7 separate regions of the Homo sapiens genome follow, and all the other regions are reported to be linked to region 2. The links are microRNA targets in miRTarBase. Many come from high-throughput screens and were not tested one by one. Region 2 holds a microRNA gene; each other region holds the end of a gene's coding sequence.

The links. The annotated mature microRNA hsa-miR-6787-3p reads UCUCAGCUGCUGCCCUCUCCAG and lies in region 2 at 1,529-1,550, shown strand. An mRNA with a match to its seed (bases 2 to 7 or 8) in the 3' UTR can be bound and repressed. Matches are read on the target gene's strand: a 7mer-m8 pairs with bases 2 to 8, a 7mer-A1 pairs with bases 2 to 7 and ends in A, and an 8mer does both.
Region 1: the mRNA of HIF1AN is a reported target of hsa-miR-6787-3p. The part of its 3' UTR that is shown has no 7-base or 8-base seed match.
Region 3: the mRNA of SAMD5 is a reported target of hsa-miR-6787-3p. The part of its 3' UTR that is shown has no 7-base or 8-base seed match.
Region 4: miRTarBase lists CMBL as a target of hsa-miR-6787-3p. The part of its 3' UTR that is shown has no 7-base or 8-base seed match.
Region 5: miRTarBase lists CPXM2 as a target of hsa-miR-6787-3p. Seed matches in the 3' UTR shown: 7mer-A1 at 2,846-2,852.
Region 6: the mRNA of RNF115 is a reported target of hsa-miR-6787-3p. The part of its 3' UTR that is shown has no 7-base or 8-base seed match.
Region 7: miRTarBase lists TMEM151A as a target of hsa-miR-6787-3p. Seed matches in the 3' UTR shown: 7mer-A1 at 2,488-2,494.

The regions. Positions count from the first base shown.
Region 1 is chr10:100,547,448-100,551,447 of GRCh38, reverse strand. HIF1AN (hypoxia inducible factor 1 subunit alpha inhibitor) reads right to left here. Exons shown (of 8, transcript NM_017902.3): 8 at 1-3,355. The coding sequence ends at 3,311. Among named protein-coding and RNA genes, the nearest start is that of HIF1AN, 14 kb to the right of the region's middle.
Region 2 is chr17:82,235,179-82,239,254 of GRCh38, forward strand. It overlaps MIR6787 (microRNA 6787), which reads left to right and starts at 1,490; the gene lies at 1,490-1,550. SLC16A3 (solute carrier family 16 member 3) reads left to right here. Exons shown (of 5, transcript NM_004207.4): 2 at 805-1,053; 3 at 1,551-1,694; 4 at 1,960-2,715; 5 at 3,524-4,076. The coding sequence starts at 831. The coding sequence ends at 3,798. It also overlaps a transcript of CSNK1D not described here. RefSeq lists enhancers at 1,067-1,256, 2,081-2,852, 3,623-4,076.
Region 3 is chr6:147,564,191-147,568,251 of GRCh38, reverse strand. SAMD5 (sterile alpha motif domain containing 5) reads right to left here. Exons shown (of 2, transcript NM_001030060.3): 2 at 1-3,858. The coding sequence ends at 3,796. Among named protein-coding and RNA genes, the nearest start is that of SAMD5, 58 kb to the right of the region's middle.
Region 4 is chr5:10,277,129-10,281,204 of GRCh38, forward strand. It overlaps CMBL (carboxymethylenebutenolidase homolog), which reads right to left. Exons shown (of 6, transcript NM_138809.4): 6 at 467-3,504. The coding sequence ends at 3,325. Among named protein-coding and RNA genes, the nearest start is that of CMBL, 29 kb to the right of the region's middle.
Region 5 is chr10:123,743,288-123,747,363 of GRCh38, forward strand. It overlaps CPXM2 (carboxypeptidase X, M14 family member 2), which reads right to left. Exons shown (of 14, transcript NM_198148.3): 14 at 2,352-3,730. The coding sequence ends at 3,477. Among named protein-coding and RNA genes, the nearest start is that of CPXM2-AS1, 31 kb to the right of the region's middle. RefSeq lists an enhancer at 3,846-4,076.
Region 6 is chr1:145,743,597-145,747,672 of GRCh38, forward strand. RNF115 (ring finger protein 115) reads right to left here. Exons shown (of 9, transcript NM_014455.4): 9 at 1-3,401. The coding sequence ends at 3,270. Among named protein-coding and RNA genes, the nearest start is that of CD160, 26 kb to the left of the region's middle.
Region 7 is chr11:66,295,051-66,299,119 of GRCh38, reverse strand. It overlaps TMEM151A (transmembrane protein 151A), which reads right to left. Exons shown (of 2, transcript NM_153266.4): 2 at 2,456-4,069. The coding sequence ends at 3,467. Among named protein-coding and RNA genes, the nearest start is that of TMEM151A, 5.2 kb to the right of the region's middle.

The DNA.
Region 1 (4,000 bases), not on the chromosome of region 2:
AGTCTCTGGGGGCAGAGGGAGGGAGTGTCTCCCCATACTGGGCTGGCCCACTGATAAGGATCCTTCCCCTCTCTGTCTCCTAACAGATTCAGATTAATGATCGCTCATTCCTAATTGTCAAATTTCTTTTCCTTCATCCTGTGTCTAATCACCAGTGACAGAAACCATTACGCAAATGAGAGCAGACGACTTCCCCCAACTGTTCACGTTGGTAAAAACCTTGTAATTTAGAGCTCTGATTTGTAGGGGAAGCTGGTCTCCCCCAGGCATCCTGGGCATCTGCTCAACTGATGCCCAGAACAGCCCCTCCTCCAACCCCAGAACTCCAACCCCCAACAAATATTTGACTTTACAAAACACTAGTTTTCTCTGTACCTGCTGGTGTGAATAGATGAGCCTGCAGCGTAGCTGACCTCTATACAGGCCCAAACCCCCACCTTCACTTGCTGTATGTGTGTGTCCCACACTGCCAGCTAGGATGGAGGTAAACAACTACAGCAGAAATGTTTCCTCTGTGGCAAGCAGAATTTGAGCCTAAACATCCCTCAAAAGGTAATCGAAGGGGAAAAACCTCATCTTTTCCTTGGGGGGAAGCAGCAGCTGAATATGAACCAAGACCCTTAGTGCCATCTAGAACTACAGCTTCAGTTCTATAGATGCAAAAGCATGCCGGGAGGAGTTATGGGTCCTATTCAAGGACACATAAGTAATGCAATTAGACACAGAACTCAGTTCCCCCCACAGCTTCTTCTAGCACTAATTCATAATATGGCTTCCCAGGCAGTTTTTCCAAGACTTTGTTAGCAGGAGCCCAGAAGAACTTTCACCCTGAGCTGTATATTCTGCACCATCTTGGGCTGGGTCTGCCTTCAGATACTGCCCAGTGGGGTGATATCTTGAGGACAGAACCTGTGGTACAAGGAGGGAGGTAAGGAAGGAAAATCAACATAGTTTGGTGGAAAGGAAGGAGCAAGGGGTTTGCAGCCTAACAGTGCTAAGTTACAACTGATTGTCACTAATCACCTAATCTCTCTGAGCCCATTTATTCATCTGTAAGTGAGAATACCTACCTTGCAGGATAGTGAGGAACAAAGAGAAAAGCACTAGGCACATATTAGGTGTCTAAAAATCAGGAATCACTCTTGTGTTACCCAAGGATCAAGGCCAATCCTGTGAAGGTTCCAAGATTAGCCTTCTCCCTCCCACCCCTCAGCCACCTTAGTGAGACCTGTGTCAGCAAATAACTCAGCAAGGACCAGCTGAGTGCATGCCTCCTTGACACATCACCCACATCTTTGAGCGCTGAGCGAGGAATACAGCAGACCTGCTGAGGAGAACGAAAATAATCTACTATCTTTCCAAGTGTGACTGTGGCCAAGTTTTTCCTCCGCTCCTGTGCTCCTCTTTCCCAAAAGAAGTGGAGAGATAGAGATCACTGCAATCACATTTCCCAGCATTGACTATATTTGAAAGAGCTACACTTGAGAAGGTACCATATCTTCACATCCACACTGCATCAGAGAACCCCAGAATGGGGTACTAAAAATAAACACCCCTCCCCAAAAAACGCACTCAGGCATGCACACACATCCACACGCATCCTCTCAGTTCATCAGTGCACTATAACTGAGCTTCAGGGGTGAGAGCCAGAGCTCAGATGCTGGAAGTAAACCTTTGGCAAAAAAAAAAAAAAAGAAAAGAAAACCAGAGACCTTCCAACTCCTCTTCCCTTCCAGAGAGAAGGTGATGAAGACAGGAGCAGAGGTGAGGAGACACAGGGCCACCACACTGCCCAATCCCAGGGACCCCACTCCCACTGAATAGATGTGAATGATGGCCCTTCAAGTTGTGCAATCACAGCTGCCCACCTGTAAGCTGCAGCCCTGAGAGGGGTTCCCAGGAGTAGCTCCTAACAGAAAAGGAAATTCGACTTCCATGCTCCACCAGTTGCCCTGACTATTGAGGGTGTTGTGGCACATTACAACGGGGTCTGGCAGAGGAGCTGGCTTTAAGACGCAAGCCTATGTGTTTGCCCGTGCCCTGAGGTGGATCACAGGTAGTGAATGAGCTGCCTGGGCTTGACCCCATTTCATCTATTCAGCCAGGAAGCTCAGCAGGAATAAAGGATATGGCCTGGGCAGGGAGCATCATAGGGCCTGGAGGCTCTAGCCAGTTAGCCTCGGGCAGGCTGCAGTGAGACCTGGCCAACATATGATGGCTAAAATCCAAGTGTAAAAGCTTAGGATAGGTCAGGCAGTACTTCCCGGGGGCTCACACTGTACTGTCCCACTGGAAAAGGTAAGCAGTGGAGAACCTTGGTAAGTAGGGAGGCTGGCCAGTGTGGACACACACACACACACACACGGACACACACACACACACGCACGCACACACACACACACACCCAGAGGCTTGCACCCCTAGTGTGGATACGCACACACAGACACACACAAACAAACACACAGAGGCTTGCACCCCTAGAACCTAGAGAAGCCACAGCTAGGAGAACTCCCTTGGTACCCAGCATAGGGGCAAGAGCTGGTGCTGAAAGAGAGAAACTATATGTGTCTCTAATTTAGAACTTATGCACAATCATTGGTTCTTATGTCCCAAGGTCCTTTTATGTATGGCTTGAGCTTGTAGGCCCAGTTGGAACCCTATCTAATCCTCTCTCACAGGAAGGCTATATAGGCTCTCAAAGGCAAGCCTCCCCTCTCTTTCACCCCATTAGAGTCCCGGTAGCCATTCCCATACCGCCTAGAGCTTGACTACGCAAAAACTGTCAGGAGGCAGACTGACCTAATGGTCAGACTAGCTCTGGCCCTGCAGCCCAGATGCAGTGGGGAGTCCAAGAGCATCTCATCTCTCTCTCAGGCTGAGGCACTGAGGTTGCAGGAGATAGGGCTGAGAGCCGGAAGTGACAGCCTGACCCAGAAGGAACAGGGAACAGATACATACATGCGTGTGCATGCACACACACGCACACATTCCGAAGTTGACAGACTAACATACACACAGACATGATGACAACCAAAAGCTGGGACTCCACACACTGAATGCAGGACTTTAGGCGGGGGGCAGAGAGAGAAGGTGCTGGGGCACAAGAGGCAAGGGTATGAAGTCCCTCCAAATAGGAGTGGAGTGCCAACTGCCCTGCCTCGCTCCAAACACCTGACTCCTGGGCCATGGCAAGAGTCCAGTCCATTAAGTGCAGCGTGCAATACTAGCGCTTGGAGTCTCCTGTCCTCATCAATGAAGCGGTGTGGACGGGATAGCAGTCACCTGGCAGGAGGCCTTGACCCCTGGCAGGCTAGTTGTATCGGCCCTTGATCATTGTGTTCAACAAGGGCCCCACCTGTAAAGAAACATGAGGAGCCAATCAGAACTGGCTGTTCCCTGGCCCTGGAATTGGACAGGGTGTGTCTGGAGACATCAGATGTCCAGCCAAGGACAGAGACAATGTTTTCATACAATCTTGTGAATCCTCTAATCACCTATCTTCCTGAAGGTCAACCCAGTATTCTGGGACATAGTCTTTCCCTCAGGGGTCCATCTTGTACTATTATTCTTCTCTCGCACAACACCGTCTCTTACCGTAATCTGCCCCAAACGGACAGACATGGTCAGAGAAGCTAATAATCCCCGAACACCCAAGAGTGTCTATATGTTTCTCCAGAATGTTAACTGCCTCCATATCCTCAAAAAATGATCATCTGCAACTGGGGCTGATGCTATCTCCCAACACCACAGGTGTCTGTGGATGCTGAGGTTACCTCCAAGAGGCAAGCAAGAACCCTACAAATACAAACCTCCCCCATTTACCCAATGGGCCACTGGCACACCTGCATGGGAAGCAGGTCTCTCAACATTACCTACAGCAGCCCTGGCACAGCTGGGAAAGTGCAAGGAGATGTGTTAGTGCTCGCTTCCTGTTCCAGAAGAATCCCCTCAGGGGGTCCCCAGATGGTACATAATACCCATGGGGAACATTACTACTAGC
Region 2 (4,076 bases):
CCCCTCCTGATTTCAGGCTGCAGCCTATGGGTCACTCCAGGCACAGGTGGGGTGAGTCAAGATCTCACTGGAGGAGTCACTGAGCAAGAGGGCCGGTGGGAGGCAAGGGGGCATCCAGGGACAAGGGGCCAGCTCTGCCCCCACTTCCCCACCCCACCCACTCTAATACTGCAGCCCCTGTGCTTCCAACTGCCCCCTCCAGCCTGGGGCCCAGCCCCTCACCGCCAGAGACTGCCCGCCTCCTCTTGGGCAAGCTCCTGGTGGGCTCCACTGAAGCCAAAGTGGGCCCTTGGGGGCAGGAGAGCCAGAGCAAGGCACGCTCCACCTAGATTTAGACCGGGAGAGACCTGGAGGATGCCAACCCCAGAGGTCCTGGGGCGAGCTCAGTGCTGGGGACCGGAGGTGCCGTCTGCTGCCAGAATCATGGTGTGCGTGGTCCCTGCCCAGCACGGGTCAGCCAGAGCGAGCCAGGGCAGAAATGACGGCCAGGTCGATGTTCCTGTCGGGGGCTGCTTGTCCCAGGAGGTAATCTGAGTCCTGGCCGAGCCCAAAAAAGCCACTGCCCTTTAGAGCCAGCTGTGAGGGTGCAGGAGGCAGTGCAGAGGGAGTGGGACCCACAGCTGCTAGCCTCCCTCCAAACCCTCCTGCCTCCACCAGACACCAGGTCAGGGGGCCACAAGTGTGGGTGCCGGGCAGCTGCCCCTCAGCTGAGCTGCCGGGCCACCCAGCTCGTGTCCCTCCCCTGCCAGGCTGCAGCTGGGATGGTCACCCGGGCAGCCTGAGTCAGCCTGCTTTCTCTCTCAGGTGAGGCGGAACCAACCCTCCTGGCCATGGGAGGGGCCGTGGTGGACGAGGGCCCCACAGGCGTCAAGGCCCCTGACGGCGGCTGGGGCTGGGCCGTGCTCTTCGGCTGTTTCGTCATCACTGGCTTCTCCTACGCCTTCCCCAAGGCCGTCAGTGTCTTCTTCAAGGAGCTCATACAGGAGTTTGGGATCGGCTACAGCGACACAGCCTGGATCTCCTCCATCCTGCTGGCCATGCTCTACGGGACAGGTGAGGGTGGCCTCACACCGGGCCCCCTGTCCGGGGCTCTGCTGGCGGATCCTGCTGGGCGCGTGTAGCTGGGCTCAGCAACAGGGCCTTCCGCCTGCTCCCCAGGGAACCCTGGAGGGAAGCCCTTGGGGCCAGGATCCTGCTGGGCAGCAACATGCTCTCCACGGGGCCAACCCAGGCAGGGCGCGAAGTCCATCCTGGCCCCTGTCCAAACGGGTCGGCTGTATTTATAGACCGTCTCAGAGGACAGGCTCCTGAGAGCCGTTCCTGAAAAGGTGGCTGTTCCTGAGCTGCAGGGACCCAAGGGGCCCAGCAGGCGGCGCTCACGTGTCATCATGGCCTGCGCTCGGGGAGCCTGCCCACGGGGTGCCCCTGGTGCCCCGCGGGGGGAGGGGTGGTGTGGGAAGGGGAGGCCGGCTCCAGGCTGTGAGCTCAGTCGGCTGGCGGGGGTAGAGCTGGCTGCAGGCCCGGCCCCTCTCAGCTGCTGCCCTCTCCAGGTCCGCTCTGCAGTGTGTGCGTGAACCGCTTTGGCTGCCGGCCCGTCATGCTTGTGGGGGGTCTCTTTGCGTCGCTGGGCATGGTGGCTGCGTCCTTTTGCCGGAGCATCATCCAGGTCTACCTCACCACTGGGGTCATCACGGGTGAGTGGGGCCGGCCGGTGGGCCGCACGTGCCAGGAGGGGCAGGGGCCGTGCACTTCTGCTCCTGGGTCCAGGCCTCTGGAGGACAGCAGGGCGGGTGGCTGCGGGGTGTCCCGGCCCCACCTCGTTGTCCCCCTCTCGAGTGGGTGGGTGGCAGGGGCTCTGCACCCTGGGAGCCTGAGCCTGTGGGAACCTGGGGGCAGAGATGAGGGTCTCGGGCTTTGGGGCAGCCTTGGGGGGCTCTCACCACATTCCCTTTCCTCCAGGGTTGGGTTTGGCACTCAACTTCCAGCCCTCGCTCATCATGCTGAACCGCTACTTCAGCAAGCGGCGCCCCATGGCCAACGGGCTGGCGGCAGCAGGTAGCCCTGTCTTCCTGTGTGCCCTGAGCCCGCTGGGGCAGCTGCTGCAGGACCGCTACGGCTGGCGGGGCGGCTTCCTCATCCTGGGCGGCCTGCTGCTCAACTGCTGCGTGTGTGCCGCACTCATGAGGCCCCTGGTGGTCACGGCCCAGCCGGGCTCGGGGCCGCCGCGACCCTCCCGGCGCCTGCTAGACCTGAGCGTCTTCCGGGACCGCGGCTTTGTGCTTTACGCCGTGGCCGCCTCGGTCATGGTGCTGGGGCTCTTCGTCCCGCCCGTGTTCGTGGTGAGCTACGCCAAGGACCTGGGCGTGCCCGACACCAAGGCCGCCTTCCTGCTCACCATCCTGGGCTTCATTGACATCTTCGCGCGGCCGGCCGCGGGCTTCGTGGCGGGGCTTGGGAAGGTGCGGCCCTACTCCGTCTACCTCTTCAGCTTCTCCATGTTCTTCAACGGCCTCGCGGACCTGGCGGGTTCTACGGCGGGCGACTACGGCGGCCTCGTGGTCTTCTGCATCTTCTTTGGCATCTCCTACGGCATGGTGGGGGCCCTGCAGTTCGAGGTGCTCATGGCCATCGTGGGCACCCACAAGTTCTCCAGTGCCATTGGCCTGGTGCTGCTGATGGAGGCGGTGGCCGTGCTCGTCGGGCCCCCTTCGGGAGGTGAGCGCTGCGCCCCCAGGCAGTTCCCCACACCTGCCCTTCCCGTCAGACGCCCGCTTTGCGAGGGGGGGGACGCGCACCCCTCGGCAGCCACCCGCAGTGTGGGACTCAGAGCTGGAGGGGGTGCACTGTGCTGGACCAACCCTGATTCTGCTGGGGCTAGCGGGTCTCCATTAGGAGTGGGGTGCTCCGTCCGGCACAGTGTGTCCAGACAGGCAGGGTGGCTAGGGGCTGGGCCCGGGGGGGGGCAGCTCCTCCAGGCTCTGCCTGGGCACCACGCGGCAGCTCCAGGCAACCCAACAGCCGGCTTTTGCATTTTGGGGCCTCTCCTTTTTGAAGGATGACTGAGCTAACACGTGAGGGAAATTAAGTTCTGACTGGAGCAGCCTTGCCCAGGCTCCGCCTGCCTGGCGAGGGGGTCCTGGGCTTGGGGAGGGCTCATGTCTTGGAGTCCGCGGTGGCCAGGGCACAGGGCTGGTACTGAACACAGTAGGGCTTCTGGGGCTGCCGACTGGAAGCCTCAGGGGGACTCCGTGGGGACCAGCGTGACTCCTGCCACCAACCGAAACCCAAACTCCACAAAGCCATTGCTATTTTTAGCCTCTTAAGTCTTGGTTCCCCTGAGGAGGAGGGAGGATGCCCCCAGCTGAAACACATGGAGGGGAGAGAACACCTCCCAGCCCCACAAGCTCAGAGGCAGACAGGGTGACCCTTGCGTGCTGAGACACCGAGACACAGGCTTGGGTGGAGCCGTGGGCCCTGGGGGCAGCCCGCATGAGCGGCTGGGACTGACGGGGTCTTCCCGCAGGCAAACTCCTGGATGCGACCCACGTCTACATGTACGTGTTCATCCTGGCGGGGGCCGAGGTGCTCACCTCCTCCCTGATTTTGCTGCTGGGCAACTTCTTCTGCATTAGGAAGAAGCCCAAAGAGCCACAGCCTGAGGTGGCGGCCGCGGAGGAGGAGAAGCTCCACAAGCCTCCTGCAGACTCGGGGGTGGACTTGCGGGAGGTGGAGCATTTCCTGAAGGCTGAGCCTGAGAAAAACGGGGAGGTGGTTCACACCCCGGAAACAAGTGTCTGAGTGGCTGGGCGGGGCCGGCAGGCACAGGGAGGAGGTACAGAAGCCGGCAACGCTTGCTATTTATTTTACAAACTGGACTGGCTCAGGCAGGGCCACGGCTGGGCTCCAGCTGCCGGCCCAGCGGATCGTCGCCCGATCAGTGTTTTGAGGGGGAAGGTGGCGGGGTGGGAACCGTGTCATTCCAGAGTGGATCTGCGGTGAAGCCAAGCCGCAAGGTTACAAGGCATCCTCACCAGGGGCCCCGCCTGCTGCTCCCAGGTGGCCTGCGGCCACTGCTA
Region 3 (4,061 bases), not on the chromosome of region 2:
AGTCCCTGGTATATCTGGTTTTTCTTTTCATAGAAAAGAGTTTGCCGATCCACCATCATCTGCTTTGTATCTTGGTTGGATTCTTCCCAGAAGATGCTATCGGGGAACAGCCCATTTGCACTCCTAATTTGTAAATCAGTCATAAAATCAGAGGAAAATATACATATGTCACTCACTCATTTGTACCTCAAATTCATCAATCTGAAGCTGCCATAAAGAGAAGAAAGCTAATGAAATACCTTCATATAATCTGTCCATGTGCCTATTTCCCCAGACTTGAAAACTGCTGGCCTTTATGAATTTGCTGTTTTGTTTTGTTTTGTTTTGTTTTGAGACGGGATCTTGCTCTGTTGCCCAGGATGGAGTGTTATTGTTTCCTTAAATCAAATTCTTTTCATTCAATCAATAAACATTTACTGAACTCCTATGAGCAGGTACTGTAGCCTTTTTTATCCTTCCTGAGAGAAATCAAAGGGGACTTATTCAGTGGGTTTCAGGCAATGATAAGGAAATGTCAATTTATGTCTGAGTTTTCTAGTCAGCTTTAAGGTAATCTCTTCTGCATAAGAAGAAATAAGACAACTGAGAGTAAAGAAGGGAAGGGAGAGAGGCAGTCAGCACCTGCTACATGCCTAGCACTGAGCCAAGGACTGTATGTGGGTGTAAGCCATAGAACTCTTAAGCCTCTTAAGAGCTATAGAGGTATTTATTTTTCCCATTTTACAGACAAGGGAAAAGAAGCTTTAATGAGTTTCATAACTGTTCAAGATGATTCCCCAAGCTACACTATAGCTTACATCCTTAACAGATTCACCGCAGGAAAATACTACTAGAATAATTTTAGAATTTAAACTCAGATCTGAGTAACTCCAAAGTGAAAGCTCAATGCTTGTTGTTGTCATTGTTTATTGCATAACACCAAGATGCTATAAATATCTCTGAACTGAGAAATTGCTCGTATGCTCCCAGTTGAGAAACTACTATCCTTTGTTGCTATAAATTCAGTTTTCCCCACAATTACTGGTTCAGCTCCCACTTGGGTAAGGAAGAAGCCCTTAACATTACGCCTTCCCTATGCCAAGAAATCTTTTATGTGAATAAAATCTTTTTTTACCTCCCTAAATTTTAAGATGAACTAAAGAAAATTTTGCTATGACCCTCCAGACTCCTCAATATTATCAAGTGAAAGTCTGTAATTAATCTCTTTTAATACTCTAGGAAATGTAAATCAAGATAATCCCCTAGTTTTTATAACATATTTATTCTTAGTCAATTGCTACTTCTTTTATATTCAAAAATTAAGTATATTATTGGTGTTTAGATACAGAGGAAAAACGCTGAAAAAATTACTCCTTCTAAGACTAACTGTCCCCAGATACAATTCATGGTAAAAATAATCCCTTTCTCTTATATTCTACCTCTTACCTCATCTTGATTTTAATGCAAAGGAATTCGTGGGCATCCTTCAATACTTCTTTGCTTATTTGAAGTTTTCTTCCTCTAGCTTTAACTAAGATGTCTTTTTAAAATCCATTGGCTTTTTTTGCTGACTGTGACTCTTACTTTAAGCAGAGCATTGTTATTTTCAAATTCTAACCACAGACACAGAGAGAAGGTTTAAACCTGGCAAAATAATTGAAGTTAGATATTACTCTAATAGAAAATAAAACTTGAAATGACCAAGGAACCCTTTTTCCATTGCAGTAGATTGCCTCATAAGGCCCACAGTGAAAATAACAGATTTTTCAAAAATTGAGTCCTTCCTAGCAAAGTTCAACAAGTACATGCAAATGTACATCTGTGAAATAAATCAGCCACGGATGCGACACCTGGAAATGAGGTCAAACAGGAAGCCATTTGTTATCACAATAAATTATATCTGTAATCTATACAGACTCCCCTACCACTCAAAAGAATCTACTTAGGAATTTTAAAGACCCTAGTTCATTTGGAAAAAAAAAAAAGATGAAAGGTTAACTGGAATATAATCCTGATGAAACTAAAAGCTTTTGTATAATTTAAGGACAACCTATACATGCTTTTAAAATTTAACTTCCTTACATTTGTATATGATAATGAGACTGATTTTAGTCAGTGCCTGAATTAACCTACAGAAATAGCTAAACTATTTAAACTTCAGATTTTTAAAGCAGTATTGTGTTAAAATTGTCCTTAGAAACCTAATATCCTTCTTAATGGCCTATCTATTCTTAGGAACCAAAATGGACCAGGAAAAAGTGAATGTAAGTTTCTTTTCCTTTGAGAGTTTCTTATTCTTCTTACCATGACGGTGCCGATGGGAACTTACATCTTGTACATTCTTCTAAGTAGTAGATTCCGTAATGCAGTACTACTTGGGAGCTCTAAACAATTGACAGCCTCAGGAGCCAGTTGTACGTCAACATCTTTTGCCATGGCTTCTTTCAACTAAGTTTTTGGTCCCATCAACATGGTTGCGTTTTCTAAGCAGAAAATAAAACTACCAGCATCCAGGCCGGGTGTGATGGCTCACGCCTGTAATCCCAGCGCTACTGGAGGCCACGGCGAGTGGATCATTTGAGGCCAGGAGTTCAAGAACAGCCTGGCCAACATGGTAAAACCCCATCTCTACTAAAAATACAAAAAAATTAGCTGGGTGTGGTGATGCGTGCCTGTAATCCCAGCTACCAAGAGGCCGAGGCAGGAGAATTCCTTGAACCTGGGAGGCGAAAGTCACTGTGAGCCAAGATTGTGCCACTACACTCCAGCCTGGGTGACAGAGCGAGACTCTGTCTAAAAAAAAAAAAACTACCAGCATCCAAACACAAGAACGATAAGACGATAAGAATTAGAAAAACTCTAGATTCCTGTTAATTTCCTCCCCCCACCTCAATCTACTTTCTTTTTCAGCCGTAGTTCTACAGGGCTCCTCAGGCCACTGCCGCTGCCCACCTCCCGGCCCCCACAGGCCTGAAGTCAGAAGCCTGGAGAGCAAGGTGGGATAAAGCACTGCAGCTCAGAACAGGCTGTGAGCTGCGGCCCTGGCAGTCTCCACAGAGTGCAAGAAACTAGCTATGAAGTAAAATAGCTAGCTCTTGCTTGATGCATGTCAGAGCAAGACACTTGTATTAGTCCTAATACTAAACCTCAGCCAGATTAAATTTAAAAAGAGAAGTTAGAAGAAATTGTCCTCTCTTGGTGATGTTCCTTAATTCATCACCTTTAACATTGTACCAATATACAAAATAACTATATAAAAGCACCTTAAAATAAGAATTCCTTCACCAAACTATTCTACATAGAATTATGTATCTTATCTTATAAAAACATGGTCCTATATGAAATGAAGTAGAATGTATGCTTGAATATAAAAATTAAAGCTACTGTTCTCAAGTTAAAAGCAAATTTGGAAATAATATAATTACTACTTACTGTCAGAAATCTACCTTTTTGTTATATTGTACTTAAACTAAGTTATGACTCAAATGCCTTAGCCAACCTCATCTGTTTTCATTAAGAATGGAAGGGAGAATGCCAAGAAATGCATAAGACTGTATCTCATCATGATATCTTCTTAAAAAAATGAACTCAATACTTCTTTATGCGTGATAGTTCACTGCCTTATTTCTAGCTGTTATAAGCCAGTTACCCAGTTTACTAAGTTGATTATTCCAGAATTTGTCCAAGCAAAAAGTTAAGCTGATGAGTATTTCCAGGGTCATCATCCATTTCCCTTTTTGAAAGAAGGTTCTAAATATGCCCTTTTCCAGTCTTCAGGCACCTCATCAGTCCTCCACGAGGTCTCAAAAATGATATCTAGCGGCTCTGTGATGACTTCGGCCAATTCATTAAGTACTCTAGGATGCCAGCCATTGGGACCTGTGGATTTGAACATATCTGGGTTATTGAAGTTCTCCTTTACCCATTCTTCCCCTAGTCCATCATGGATTTCTGCTCCTATTTTTAAGTCATTCTTGTCCCTTTCTGCTTACCACATGGACTTTTGAAGAACAGCCCTAAGAGTTTTTGCTTGTTATCTATCAATTTTCTCTTTCAAGCTAATTAAAAAAGAATGCATTTTA
Region 4 (4,076 bases), not on the chromosome of region 2:
GTGGCCCAGGCTGGAGTAAAATGGCACCATCTCAGCTCACTGCAACCTCCACCTCCGGGTTTAAGTGATTCTCCTGCCTCAGCTTCCCAAGTAGCTGGGATTACAGGTGCCCACCACCATGCCTAGCTAATTTTTGAATTTTTAGTGGAGATGGGGTTTCACCATGTTGGCCAGGCTGATCTTGAACTTCTGACCTCAAATGATCAGTCCACCTCAGACTCCCAAAGTGCTGGGATTACAGGCATGAGCCACTGTGCCTGGCCAAATCAAGTACTTCTGATGAAAAGTTAGCATCCAAATGGAGATATGTGTAAGCAGAAAATACACACCAGATGTCAAAGATAGAGGAACAAAAAAAAAAAAATACAAAATATCTCACTCATGATTCGTTACATTGATTACACACTGATGGAACATTTGTGATAAATTGGGCTAAAATGCATTATTAAAATTAATTTCACTTGTGTCTCTTTCCTTTTTTTAATGGGGCTATAAGAAAATTTAAAATTACATACATGGGGAAAAAAGCTAAAGTTGCCATTTTTTCCCTTTACCTTCATTTATCTGTTTGTCTAATAGTCACTGAAGAACATATCTTTTTAAAGAAGTACGTGTGTGACTTACATTATACTTCTATCTGCAGTGCTGGTTCAGAACACCATGACATTTGACCAAAGGACTCAGCAGAGGGAAGGCTGCCCAGGCCCCAAGCTCACCATGAAGGATACAGCCACACCCTTGGTTCATTCTCGCACGAATTTCAGACCTCCCACCTATGTTGAAGACTCTGGCTACTGGCCACATGCTCACCGACACCGTTCCACGGCAAAAGCCCAGCACATCTCAGGGGTTTCCTGGGAGGCCGGATGAATGTGTGAGGCCTCCTGGGAGCAGCCCTCAGCAGGCAAGGGCTTTGGCCTGTTGGGGTCCACAACTAAGTGTCCACAGTAGACCAGCCCTGCTCAGGCTTGGATTCTCTCAACATTAGGCAAAGGGTCTCCCCATACCCATTTGACAGATGCAAAAACTGAGGCTCAGGAAGCTCAAGTTTGGGAATTCTTTGAATTTTATGTTTCCTGAGCATCTATTTGAATGTAAGTTGGACTTTCTCATACTAGAAGCAGGGATTAGTAACACAGTTTCCAGTTATACAACTTCTCACTGTTCCCCAAGGTGGTCGATCCAGACATCTGCCTTACAAAACCGCCTCCTGGGACCACCTTCCCATGGACAGCTGGATACCACCTGCTTGACTTGTCCCACTGACCCCCACACCCACATGGACCATGCCGATATCCTACCCACACCGACCCCTCTCAGTCACAGCGTGAGTCCCCGGGGCTCATGCCTGCTTGCTCTAAACCCCCCAGTTAGAACCTCCAGGGGAAACCTGCATAGATGACACCCTGGGCCCCAGTGAAGGCTTTGGCTCATAGCTCCCTCTCTCTCTCGTTCTCCACCTTCTGGTTGAGCCCATGTGTCCTGAATGGCTCCCCCTTTTTGCTGGCCCTGTGAAGCGTGCTGCCCTCTGTTCTCTGGATCTGTAAGCAATAAACTGCTTCTGTCATTTCTTGGGTTCTGATGAGTTGCCTCCTCTACCCCATCCTAACTTCTTTCCCGGTCAGGGCTCTCCGGGAGAGTGGCTGTCTCAGTAGGAATAAACTGGACACAGGTCAGATGAGAGCCACAAGGTCATGTGCCAGGATAAACAAGCTTCCTGCGAGAGGGACACCTGGCCACAGGTTGGACACTCAGGAATCAGGCCGTCTGTGAGGTCAAAGAAGGATCCCATGAAAGGCACATGGGAAACACCCACGACCACATCCCCAGGATCCCCGTCAGGGCAGGGCTAGAGTTTACAGCCACTCTCTCCTGAGAAGGACGTCAAGACAAAATTAGGAAAAAAACTACAACATCAAGTCACTTGCCCAAAGTCACATGTACGCACCCCGTAGGTGCAGGTGCAGAGTTTCTCACCGGCTCTCCCCTTTACGCCACCACCAGAAACACAGGAGATATTTCTGAGGTAGCCTCAGGCCCTGGGACCCAAAAATGCCAGTGCTTGGAAATCCACTGCTTAGGAGACAACAGCTGGGTGACAACTCTAGCCCACCGTTCTCTGCTATCTTTTTAAAAAAGCTGCAAATTCAAAAATTCAAAAAATTAGTTTATTAGCTTAATATAATTAGGTCAATGGAATCCTGTTTTGATCTCAATACTTCCCATATTGCAATATATAAATGTGACAAATTCAGCTGTTTTGTGGCATAGATAAGTGTCTAAGCTGGGCAGTTAGTCTACCCGTTTATAGTTCATGTTCTTCATGGCTTTGCAGCATTTGTCACTTTCTATGATGTGTTCAAAGACCAGAAAAGGCCACACTTGACCTGTCAGCTGGTCCTTGAACAGCTGTAGGTTTTTTTTTTTTTTTGAGACAGAGTCTCCCTCTGTTGTCCAGGCTGGAGTGCAGTAGCGCAACCTCGACTCACTGCAACCTCTGCCTCCAGGTTCAAGTGATTCTCCTCCTCAGACTCCTGAGTAGCTGGGATTACAGGCACATGCCACCATGCCCGGCTGATTTTTATATTTTTAGTAGAGATGGGGTTTCACCATGTTGGCCAGGCTGGTCTTGAACTCCTGACCTCAAGTGATCCACCCACCTCGGCCTCCCAAAGTGCTGGGATTACAGGCGTGAGCCACCGCACCCGGCCTGTAGGTTTTAACTAATAATTAGGGTATTACTCTATCATTCTCTATCATTCAAATTCTCCAGGTACTGACCTGGTTTTTATTTTATTTATTTATTTATTTACTTATTTATTTTTGAGACAGGGTCTCACTCTGCTGCCCAGGCTAGAGTACAGTAGTGGCACAATCTTGGCTCACTGCAGTCTCCACCTCCTGGGTTCTATTGATTCTTGTGCCTCAGCCTCCCAAGTAGCTGGGACTACAGGCGTGCACCACCACACCAGGCTAATTTTTGTATTTTTTGTAGAGATGGGGTCTCACCATGTTGGCCAGGCTGGTCTCAAACTCCTGACCTCAGGTGATCCACCCACTTTGGCCTCCCAAAGTGCTGGAATTACAGGCATGAGGCACTACACCTGGTCAGACCTTGTTTTTAAATTATGATTCGATGTACATGTCAAAAATTAAATTATTTCATGCATTACGTCCTACTGAATTTGTGTTTCAAATGAAATAATCAATTTTAGGATTCCTACACTTATTTTATAAAAGTGAAAATTAAATCAAATGATCTAACTATTTCCAAGCAAATTTTGGGATGAAAGCTATTCTAGGAAGGCTTGCCCTTGATTCTTGCTACATGTACTTGTTCAGCCACTCAATTAAATTCCTTCTGGCCTCGTCAATGTAGGGCTTGTCTGCAGGTGAGCAATCTTCTCTCTTCCGATGCACGAACCCATGAGTCTGCCCAGAAAATGTTTTAATTTGATATTCAACTTTGCAGTGTTCTTTCAACTTCTGAGTCAGCAAAGATACCTGGTGTGCAAAAGATTTCATGATTTTAACCCTTTAGTGATACTTTCCATTCTCCAAATCTTTAGTGAGCGTTCATAACAGAAATTTAACATCAATGCTTTAAATCAGAAACAAGTTCCACAGTTACACTGAATTCTTTCCCACTAATTTTTTTCTTTTTAGACAGGGTCTCACTCTGTTGCCCAGGTTGGAGTTCAGTGGCGCCATCTCAGCTCACTGCAACCTCTGCCTCCCACATTCAAGTGATTCTCCTGCCTCAGCCTCCGGAGAAGCCGGGATGACAGGCACCCGCCACCATGCCCAGCTAATTTTTGTATTTTTAGTAGAGACAGGGTTTCACCATGTTGACCAGGCTAGTCTCAAACTCCTGACCTCAAGTGATCTGCCTGCCTCTGCCTCCCAATGTGTTGGGATTACAGGCGTGAGCCACGGCGCCCGGCCTCTACTGCTAATTTTATAACTAACACAGTCCTTATGTCTGGCAAAGGAGAGATTTCAGGGAAATGGAAAAATGATACATCTATTATTTGAAATCACTTGCATTAATATATTAGTTACTAATATTATAACAA
Region 5 (4,076 bases), not on the chromosome of region 2:
TGAAGACAGTAAACAGGCACTAGACTCCGCCAGAAGCAGACGCACCACGTTGGTTGATTTTATCCTGCAGAAAAACATCTCAAACAGCCTGTCAATCTCTGGACATGTTTCTAACTCAGTCAAGTACCAGGTTTCACTTATAAAAATGAAGACTCTTCAAGAGGTAAAAAGACACCAAATACATTCAAAGTATAGATTTTCAATTTCTCAAGTCACATTTTCTGAACGTGTTAAGGGAATCCTACAAACAGGGCAGCACATGGCAGAGGCTGGCTCGGCTTCACACGTGTTCATGGTGCAACTGCTGCAGTGGGGAGCAGCCCCGCAGGAGGAGTGGGAACCGAGGAGGATGCAGGTCCTGCCCTTGGGAGCTTCCAGACCAACAGCAGAGAGAACCTGAAGTAACACAACTCCTCTGAGAGGCCCTGAGGGCTCTGCAGATTTGTTCAAAGGAGTGAGAAATCACCATGGTCCTGAGAGGGGGAAGGCTTCCTGGAGGAGGTGGCATTTGAGACAGGACTGGAGAGAAGCAGGAGGGTTTTCAGCTGTGAGGAGAGATAATATATGCAGAGGCCCAAGCTGAACCTAGGGAAAGATCTAGGAGGGTAATTCCGGCTGAAAAGCAGGAGAGAAGGCAAGTAGGAGGGAGGTTCCGGGCTCCGGGTTAAGGAAGGTTATGTGGGCTTGAAGGTCCAGTGAGGAGTCGCTGTGTCACGGAAGGGCTGAGGAGAGAAGTGACTCCAACAGAACAGAGCTTTAGGAATCCAGGATGTCGGCTCTCTGCCAGAAATCTTCGGACGCCACAGCCAGCCTGACCTTTACAGTCTATGAAGCCTGAGGGCTTTACTTTGCAGGAGTAGATGAGAGATTAGAGAGGATGCCTGACCTGAGATCACACACCAAACAGCCCTGGCCAGTCCTGAATGCAGAGCCCCTGCCTGCGAGCCCAAGGTGCCTGCAAACGGGCTCAGTTTGGTGACAAGGCTGCAGGGAGGGTTGAGAATGGCATGGATGCAGTAGGCTGTGTGCAGTAGCCCTGCAAGTTCCAGAGCTGACTACTGGAAATAAGACCGGGCCATCTCGGCACCAAGGGCCAGGACCTGGCTTCTGGGTCAGCATGGCAGGGACTGGACAAATCCACAATCTTCCAAGCAAATGTGGGATTGCTCGGGTTTAAATTGTGGGTCCAGGACATGTCTCAAGGGCCCAGAAGGGTCACTTGCACCATCGTCTCTTTCACCCCTGCAACTCCCCCTTCTGAACTGCAAAGGTGGTTTATAGTTTTAAATGCTTTATAGCACTGCCTCCATATCTACTGCTGTGAGGCTCAGATTTTCCTACCATGGGCTTAGTTGAGAGCTGTGTGGTCCAATATGTAGCCTTTAGCCACAAGTGTCTATTAAAAGTTTAATTAAAATGAACATTCTATAATAGAAGAAACCCAGTTTTTAAGTTTCACTGACCACCTTTAAAGTACTCAATAGCCACACGTGGCCAGCACTGTGGCATTCGATAGCACACAATAGGACATTTCCATCATCACGGAAAGTTCTATTGGCCAACACTGGCTTATAGCAGGAGCTGACTATGTCTTAGCTTGCAGGCCAAATCCAGCTGCCACCTGTTTTTGTAAATAAAGATGTACTGGAATGCAGCCATGGCCATTCATTTCTTTTCTTTTCTTTTTTTTTTTTTTTTTTTTTTTTGACAGAGTCTTGCTCTGTCATCCAGGCTGGGGTGCAATGGTGCAATCTTGGCTCACTGCAACCTATGCCTCCCGGGTTGAAACGATTCTCCTGCCTCAGCCACCTGAGTAGCTGGGACTACAGGCATGTACCACCATGCCCAACTAATTTTTGTATATTTAGTAGAGACAGGGTTTCATCATGTTATCCAGGCTGGTCTCAAACTCCTGACCTCAGGCAATCTGCCTACCTCGGCCTCCCAAAGTGCTGGCCCATTCATTTCTGTACTGTGTATGTCTGCTTTTGTGCTACAATAGCAGAGCTGAGTGGTTATGACAGAGACTGTATGGCTTGCAAAGCCTAAGCTATTTACTGACCCTTTTAAAGAAAAGTTAGCTGACCCTGAGTATAGATTGTGCAAAAGCTGTATGAGAATCTTTTCTCTAAAGATGCTTACTGGCATCTCCAAGAGCCAATAGTGGGTCCCAAACAAGTGTCTCTCCTGGGAAAGAGGCAGAGAACATAGTGCTGTCAGCATCAGTGCTGAGCTTAGTGGGGGTGCAGGATGGCCACCCCTAAGCAGGCACCTTGTCTAGGCTGACCAACCTCAGAAAGAGGTAGTGGGGTGGCTGCAAGCCTACCCAGAAAAGTCACACACACCAGAAGGGTCTTACCATTTGCTTTATTTTTTTTTTTCATTTTTCCCAGGTCAATGAGGCAGCAACATTAACAAAAAGTGAGACATACTTTTTTCTTGCAAGATAATTCAATAATTCTTCCCAAACTGATGCTCCACAGATAATCCTAAGAGGTTTTCATTACATTTAGCCTAATCTGGAAGATCTGGCATTCTACATATCAAAAATAACTCCCAGGCTGATATGAGGCCAACCCATGAGCACTCAATTCCACACAGGGGCAATACCTCAAGCAGAGAGAGGGCTTCAGGCCACCCCACTTCTGGCTCTTTCCAGTCCTAGCAGGTAAAAGAGGAGATCCAGGCTAAATTTTCTGGCCCTTCAGGAAGGCTGGCACCTCTGGCTCTCCCTACCTGGGGAACCTCCAGGGCTACTGGATCAGCAGGGACTTTGGGGGTTGTTTATGGACCCAGAATTTGTGCAAGAAGCTCCATGCTTGCTGCCCAACAAACTCCTGAATGATCTCAGCCTCTCTCTCCTTTTCTGAACACACTCCTTTGTTGAAAAAGGAGACTAAACAGATTCAAGAGGCTCACTGATGTGCACTTGGCAATGACGCTATTGTCAAAAGAACACAGAATTTATTTGTAGCAGCTTGCAATGTCCCAGGGCCAGAGAGGGTGGATTCTCTTAGGACGCCTGGGAGCATCTCAAATGGTAACATTTGGGACAGCCCAGCTGGGGAAATGCTGCAATTTTAGCTGTGCAAATTGCAAATGCACGTGGAACCCTTGCTGCCACGCAAACAGGGGAAGCACCAGAATCCTTTTCTATGCAGCCAGAGGCTCTGAACGGACAGGCTCCCCTCCTTCTCCTTCTCTCTCTGATTCCCAGGTTGGCTTGCTGAGTTCTCTCACTCCCATCAGCTTTTCTCTGCTGCTCTGTCCAAGTTATTTGGATAAATGGGAACAAAGAAAAGAAAACAGCCTCAGCCTCCAGCCTTCCCTTTTGGGACCTGCCTCACAATGCACCCTCTCTTCCAGGCACTTCTTGAATTACAGAGGAAACAACAGTGAGTGAGTCCACTATGGAGCTACTACCAGGTTGGTTTAATTTGCATGGGTCCCAGACGAGTCTCAAGGGCCCAGGAGGGTCACCCACGCTGTCGTCTCTTCTGCCCCCGCAGCTTCAGCCGCCTGGCTGGCAGGCTGACGGGCTGCTTCCCAAACTTCTCCATGATCTCTCGGATCCTGGCCATGTTGGTTTTGCTAAGTGTGAAGTCACACCTTGTGGCCCCCATGTCATAGCCAACCATACAGTTCTTGGTGGATGCAGTGAAACCTTCGGCCTTTGCTGTGACCACATACTCTCCAGGGTTCAGGAGGCGCCAGTAATCCCCATCGTTGGCTGTGAAAAAGAAAACCAGGGGAGACTCAGAGCAGCTCTTGCTAATGCAGATCCCGCCAGCCCTCCTCCAAGACCAGCTCCCTGGGCCAGAGAGAGACTCTCAGGCTGGCAACGTGGAATCCGAGCTCCTGCAGATGCAAATTCTTAATGCATTTTGGAAGCCCAGATGTTTTCCTCTCTGAAAGCTGCCTTAATGGTTTTAACAGGGAGGGGAGGTATAGGCTCCCCGCAGTGTCAATACACAGGAGCAAAGCTGGAGAGCCGATCACTAATGCTCTGTGACAATATGAGCCATTCATGATGAACTTGAACTTCCAAACAGTATGCCCTCGCCACAAAATGCCAT
Region 6 (4,076 bases), not on the chromosome of region 2:
AGGTAAAACCTTGTCTCTACTAAACATATAAAAAATTAGCTGGGCATGGTGGCAGGTGCCTGTAATCCCAGCTGCTTGGGAGGCTAAGGCAGAAGAATCGCTGGAACCCAGGAGGTGGAGGTTGCAGTGAGCTGAGATTGCACCACTGCACTCCAGCCTAGGCGACAGAGCAAGCCTCCATCTCAAAAAATAAATAAATAAATAAATAAATAAATAAATAATAATAATAATAATAATAAATCCCTGAAGAATCCTAACTCCTCAACATAAATTAACCTGGACATCTGAGGTGCCTGCCATTATAAGAAGAAACACAACAGATCCATTAAGTGGGACAGGTCTGGGAAACAGTAAAATGAGTCTCACATCCTCTATCCACCAGAGCAAAAAAAGTGAAGAAAACTTCATGTAACTTTGTCTGATGCTGTTTGCTATACTGTGTATAAAAAGGCAGACCCCTATCCAGTACTTTGTTTCCACCCTTTTTAAAGGTACTCAGATCCTTTCTAGTTCTCTAGGCATTGGTTCTCTATCTGTACGTAAAACTACAACTGCCTGTCCTGGCATCTCCAGACACTGACAAGCAAATATGTCCAGGCTGTCATGATTTTTCTGAGACAACTGATATTGTGTACTTGAAAACTGCAATGTGTCCCAAGTTCAACATAGCCTTCCTCCATCTAAGTAGTGGCCAAATATTCATAATACACCTCTAATTTCCTTCCATCCTCCTCCCCAATTCAAAACCAGTGTGTATTCTCAAGCTACATTTCAGGGGCAACGCACAGTAAGTAGATCTCATTCCCCAAATAAACAATCACTACAGAGGTGTAATATGGGAGGTATATGAAAAAACATATTTTATTCCCTCTGGGCCCAAATGAATCATACTTTCTGGTCACAACTTTTAGAGGCAGGCTATTATTTCAGCAGGCCACTCTCTCACTTTTTCTGTTCCCTCTCTGACTCCTTCATCCTTTACCAAAGTACAGAGAAACGTTATCTCTAGCCCCCTTCCGTCACCCACAAATCAGCGTATGATAGTCAACAAAAACTGAGGAAAGACTTCTAGCCAAGAAAAAGACCCATTAAAGAGTGGTGTTTTTGTTCTGATCATTCTAAACTGATCATTCTGATCATTGTTGTGTGACAATACAAATGGTGCCCCTCTGTACCTTTTTTTGGTACACCAACAGTTGTTCTATGTCCCCATCATTTCCTTTTGAGACCTTGAAGTTTCAACAACATTCTTGACCTTCTTAATTTATCCAATGTTAAACACTTGAATGCTACAAAGAGCATGTGCATGGGACACTACTAGGCTGAAAAAATAAGGCCTACCTCTTCCAGGCCAAGCTGTTTTGGACATGATCACACTGATCAGTTTGAGTCCAAGTATAGCCAGAACCAAGGAGAAAAGGAAAGTTTCAGAGATGAAAAATAGGCTTAAAAATTAAAATGTGACAATGTAAAATCTTAACTCCTGAAGACCAATGAATTACCAAAAACAGTGAACTGGCTGCAGACACTTACTGTCTCTATTTCTGTGAGGCAAATTATTTTAAGATTACTAGGAAAAAAGACAGTAAACAATGAGTTGAGCACTTTGAGAGGTTGAGGCAGGCAGATCACTTGAGCCCAGGAGTTTGAGACCAGCCTGGGCAACACGGCAAAACCCTATCTCTACAAAAATACAAAAATTACCCAGGCATGGTGGCACACGCCTGTAGTCCCAGCCACTTGGTAGGCTGAGGTGGGAGGATCACTTGAGCCTGGGAGGTCGAGGCTGTGGTGAGCTGAGATCGTGCCACTGCACTCCAGCCTAGGCGACAGAAACAAACAAAAAAAGCAGTGAGTTGGGGATTTTTTTTTTTTTTTTGAGATGGAGTTTCGCTCTTGTTGCCCAGACTGGAGTGCATTGGTATGATCCGGCTCACCGCAACCTCCACCTCCTGGGTTCAAGCGATTCTCCCACCTCAGCCTCATGAGTAGCTGGGATTACAGGCATGCACCACCACGCCCAGCTAATTTTATATTTTTAGTAGAGACAAGGTTTTACCTTGTTGGCCAGGCTGGTCTTGATCTCTTGACCTTGTGATCCGCCTGCCTCGGCCTCCCAAAGTGCTGGGATTACAGGCGTGAGCCACCGCGCCCAGCGGTAATCATTTTTTAAAATCTCAGAAGCAAAGGTCTCAAACATCTGTCTTTCTGTGCCTGTATGCTGCCCAACTCATTCCCAAAAAGGAATGGGAATCAGATTCCTATCAACATAAGGCTCCCAATATATGTTATGTAGGTTTCTTGGGAAACTGCATCAACTGAAGTAGTCTTTAAAAATTAAAATAAGAGGCCAGGCGCAGTGGCTCACGCCTGTAATCCCAGCACTTTGGGAGGCTGAGGCAGGCGGAGCACAAGGTCAGGAGATTGAGACCATCCTGGCTAACACGGTGAAACCCCATCTCTACTAAATATACAAAAAATTAGCTGGGCATGGTAACAAATGCCTGTGGTCCCAGCTACTCCGGAGGCTGAGGTAGGAGAATCGCTTGAACTCAGGAGGCAGAGTTTGCAATGAGCCAAGATCGTGCCACTGCACTTCAGCCTAGGCGACAGAGCGAGACTCCATCTCAAAAAAAAAAAACAAAAAAAATTAAAATAAGAAAACCAAAGCACACAATGATAAACCACTTTTCTCTTCTTGCTGTAATTTTTCTTTGATTTGCTCTCTGGGGATCAAGACAAAACAAAATCATTAGTCTTAGATACCTGAATTTGACCTCGCCTCATAGCTAATGTGATCAAGAGTAGTTTTTTTTTTTTTTAAATACAATTAAGACAAAAGGACTTTATATCAGCAGGACTTTAGGGCTGTGGTTCCACTGTTTTTATAGTAAAATACACTAATGGTGGGGTAGAGGTTGGAGAAGGAGGTGGAAACATCCGTTACAAGGCAACATGACAGACAGCAGGACCCTAACTAGACTTTAAGGAATTAATTCTATTCAGACGGGGGGAGCCCTACATAATTAAGTTTCACACTTATAAAATTATCACTCTGAATTCAGGGATAAGAGGCATTTGGTTGTAGATACAATTCCATCTGTAGATACTAACTTTAAATTTAAAGAAGAAAAACATTCATTGCATTTATATTATGTGTTGAGTTTCTTACATATTCCTAAATCCATCTACTAATTTTTTGTTTTGATACAATTTACAGCTATGGTAAGATGATTACCACAGCCCTGATTCAGGTGTGGTCTTTAGCTTCAGAAAGTCCATCGGTCATGTAGCTGACTGTCATTGCTAAATCTGTTGCTTGCAGAGGCCTCAGTGCTCTGGCTTTGCCGAGTAGAGTCCTCACCATTTAAGCTCTTCCTACATACAGGACATGTGTCATGCTGAAACAGAAAAATATTAGTCTATGTGAAGATCCTGGCCTGAGAAGCTGGGAGTATTGTACACTTAAATAACCCTGAGAATTGTCACATCAAAAATTATGACATGGAACAGAAAAACAATAGAGAATGCATCCTCATAGAGCATGCACTGGCTCTAAGGTGTGATACCAGGATATCTCCCAAACAGAACTTTAAGCAGAACTGACAGGAATAATTCTAGGCCAGCAAGTTAATAACAGCTAATACATACCACCAAACAGAACGAACCAGAAACAGTGAGTGATCTATGACAGGAGGGTAACTGCCCATTACTTCCCAATATGGTCTAGAGCAGAGGTCAGCAAACTTTTTGTTTAAAGGGACAGGAAAATTGGCCGAGTGCAGTGGCTCACACCTGTGATCCCAATACTTTGGGAGGCCGAGGCAGGTGGATCACCTGAGGTCAGGAGTTTGAGATCAGCATGGCGAAACCCTGTCTCTACTAAAAACACAAAAATTGGCTGGGCATGGTGGTGCACGCCTGTAATCCTAGCTACTCTGGAGACTGAGACACAAGAATCACTTGAAACCAGGAGGTAGAGGTTTCAGTGAGCTGAGATCACGCCACTGCACTCCAGTCTGGGTGACAGAGTGAGACTCTGTCTCAAAACAAATACATAAGGGACAGAAAATAAG
Region 7 (4,069 bases), not on the chromosome of region 2:
GGGTTAGGATAATTTGTTATGTGGCAGTAGATAATTGGTAAAAGCTGCTGGTAACAGAGACAAAAAAAAAAAGCAATGGGCTTAAGCAGACTTACAGTTTATTTCTCTTTCTCATTGAAGTCTGGAGGTAGGCGACCCAAGGGATGACATGGAAACTTGCATGGTGTCATCAGAAGCCCAGGATCTTTTCCCTTGTTGCTCTGCTGTCTTCAGCATGTGGCTACAATTTTCTTTTTCTTTTCTTTTTTTGAGACGGAGTCTTGCTCTGTCGCCCAGGCTGGAGTGCAGTGGCGCAGTCTCGGCTCACTGCAAGCTCCGCCTCCCGGGTTCATGCCATTCTCCTGCCTCAGCCTCCCAAGTAGCTGGGACTACAGGCGCCTGCCACCTCGCCTGGCTAATTTTTTGTATTTTTAGTAGAGACAGGGTTTCACCGTGTTAGCCAGGATGGTCTCGATCTCCTGACCTCGAGATCCGCCCGCCTTGGCCTCCCAAAGTGCTGGGATTACAGACATGAGCCACCGCGCCCAGCCTGTGGCTACAATTTTCAAGGTCATTTCCTGCTCCAAGATGGCTGCTGGCGTTCCAGCTATCACATATGCATCCAAGGCTGAATGCAGGCTGAAGCAGAGAGGACAAAAATGGCCTTCATCAATACTGCTTCTATTCAAGGGGCATTCTTGGAGATCCCTTCCAGCACCTTCTGTTTATATCTAATATCCTAGAATTCAGCCACACAGTCATACCATATATGCCAGGGAGGCTGGAAATGTTGCCCTTTAGCTGGGCACATTGCCTTCTGCAGCAAAACTGGGGTTCTGTTATTGGGGAAGGGAGGAGAATGGACAGTGAGTGGCCAGTGGGCAGTTGTTGGCTATGGTGTTAGAGCAGAATGGTGGAAAAAGGGTCTTTCCCATGGCAAGGAGCTGAAACCAGCATGCTGGCCTCCCTACCTGCTGGAGCCTTTTTTTTTTTTTTTTTTTTTGACAGTCTCAGGTGGAGTGCAGTGGCGCAATTTCAGCTCACTGCATCCTCTGCCTCTCGGGTTCAAGCGATTCTCCTGCCTCAGCCTCCTGAGTAGCTGTCACAGGTGCCCGCCACCACACCCAGCTAATTTTTGTATTTTTTGTAAAGACGGGGGTGGGGGGTGTCTCACCATGTTGGCCAGGCTGATCTCAAACTCCTGACCTCAAATGATCTGTCTGCCCCGGCCTCCGAAAGTGCTGGAATTACAGGCATGAGCCACTGTGCCTGGCCACCCCCTGCAGCCTTGTTGAATGTTTGGGCACCACAGGGTTTTCCACCTAATTTGCTTCTGAACGAGGAACTGATTTCACACCCAAAGAAGAGAGGCTGTGGGTTAACGCACAGGGAGAACTCTGGTCTTTCACTCCACCCTCCCGACAGAGCCAGCAGGTCGCTGGACTTTTGCTAAATATCCTAAAATGCAGCCTTGACTGTATCACGTCCCTGCCCAACCCCCTTCCATGGTTCCAGATTGCCCAGTTTGCTCCAGTTTAAGGACAAATTCTAGGGTTTGGCATGGAAGCTGCAGCAAAGCCTTCCATGGCTTCTTGCTTCTATCTCCTTGTCACACCTCAGCTCATGCCCGACAACCAGGCCTTTGTCTGGGCAGCATCGGCTGTCCAAGACATTGCTTGCCATGTCTTTGCTTAGTGAAATCCACCCATTCTCAGCACACTTCCCGGGCCACCACTAGCCCTTAAGCCACCTTTGCGTGAAAAGGAAAACGGTCCCCTTTCTCCAAGTGGATGTAGCTCCATGCCAGAGTTTGGGGAGTGGCCTGTAGGCTGGATTCCATGCACGCTTGCCCCTTAGCCCACTGCCCTTGCACAGTGAACACCCTTTACTGCTGCACATGTGACAATGCCACGTCCAGGAATCTTTCAGAGCTCCATCAGGGAGTCAGGACCTTCCTTTTCCCTGATGTTTTCTCTGCCTTTGGATTCCATGCCAGCCTGCCCTGGTTTGGGGCTGCCCTTTCCAGCTTTGTGTCTTCTGACCTGCTTCATGCCCTTTCCCTCAGATTGATAATGTCAGTAGCCGCTGGGGGGGCACCGAATTCGAGTCACAGACCATAGCTCTTTCTCCCCACTTTGGGGACCGGCCACCACTCCCTTAGCCCTCGGCATGCCCAGCAGCAGAGTGGAATGTCCCACTGAGCTGGAACAAGGGCCACCTTGACAATGCCTTAGCAGTGACCCAGGCCCAGATACCGGAGTCAGGGGAGCCAGGTGCTCAGAGCGCCTCACACTTGAGTCTCAGAGGCCCCAGGCTAGGCAGGGGAGGTTTCCTCTCCTCTGCTTACTTGGTTCCTGGGAACACTGGAGCCCAATTCTGAGTCCCTTCCCAGAACCCCTCATCGTGCCCTGAACCATGGGGGCCCATAATGCTTGCAGTGGAGGCCTTAGACCCATGACCCAGGAATGCACAGGCCTTCCATTCCATACCTTTATTTAATCTGCATCTTCTCAGCCTCCTCCCTTCCCCGCCACCCCTTAGAGGGCGTGGAAGCCCTCGTTGAAAGGGAAGGAACTCCTCTCTCCTCCCTGGGGGAGGGTCAGTGTCCCCTGGGCCAAGACTCGTTGATGGGAGAAGCAAGGGCCTGCGTGGTGGAGCAAGGACATCATCCAAGAGGCTGTGGCCAAGGCCCAGCCCCTCGGATGCCCTCTAGGCCTGGGCCCCATGGATCATCAGGAAAGTGAAGAGTAGATAAGTCCGGGAGGGCAAGGAACGGGCGTCCCTGCGTGTGTGTGGCTGATGGAGGCAGACATGGACTTTGGGAGGCAGGAGCAGAGGCCAGGGGATGTGGGGACCAGGTGAGGCCCTGAGAAGGAACCCCAGGTTGTAGGGGTAGCTGCATGTGGGGGGAGTGACTGGCCCTGAGCAGCGGGAGAGAGGGCAGGCAAGGAGGAGGGGCCTATCAGGGGAGGATGGGAATGTTGGGTGAGTAGCAGGGCCAAGGCCATGGTGCCACCACAGCCAGCTCTTCAGCCCCAGGGAAGCCAACCTGGCTGGGCATGGCCCCAAGCCTCCAATTTGTGCTTCTGCGTCACTGGGGGGGCTCCCAGCATGGCCTCAGCCCCGGTAGGGAAGTGTCCACAGGCAGCCTCTGCTGCAGGCAACAGCTGGCCGCAGGACTCCTCCTCCATCCCAGCCTTTCTGGAAGCTTCTTCTCCTGCCCTTTGTGAGAGGCCTTCAGGCCAGATCATCGGCCATCTTGGGGGATGAAGCCATGCTGGGGGCGATTCTTAGGCTTCCACTTCCTCCAAAATGACCACAGGTAACTGCATTTTAGTCTGTTTAAGGACCCCCACCCCCACCCTCACCCCTGCCCCTTGTGTGTGGCTGGTCTGTTTTCCCGCCTGTTTTGGACAACAATCACTCGGGCATCTAAGCCCATGGTGGAATGGTGGGGAGGGGGCCACTCTGGGGGCCGTGGGGGGTCTCAGAGAGCACCCTGCCCATCCCCCTGGCAGCCGCTGTCTCCGTGGACAATGAGCACCGGGAAGTAGAGGGCGTCCTCATAGCAGGGCGGGCTCTCCAGGGGTTCCGTGTCCTCTCCACGGCGCCCCAGCGGCCCCCCGCTCAGGCTGCGGAAGACCCCTGGCGTGGCCCGGCCGCCAGCGCCCAGCGAGAGGCGGCTGCGGCTGAAGGGCAGGCGGGGCCCGCTGGGCCGGGCGGGGGGCAGCGAGTTGCTGCTGACAGAGCGGCGGCAGCGCTGGCAGCCTCTGAGGTAGGCGCCCGAGCCCGCGCCCATGACCACGGCCTCCGAGTAGCTGGGCACCAGCTGCCGGTTGGAGCAGATGTGCCACTCGAGCTCAGTGAAGTCCACTGTGGCCACGCGGGACAGCGGGGGCCCGCTGGGCACGGCCCCCGGCGGGGGCGAGCTGGCGCCAAAGAGCTTCTCCACCTGGTAGTGCACGTGAGCCGTGCCATAGGCGGCCACGACGCGCAGGGGCCACGACAGCGTGGCCGCCGACACGAGCCAGAAGACCCAGGCGCGCGCGTACCAGGGCGGGCTGCGGGGGTCGGCGAAGACCATGAGCGA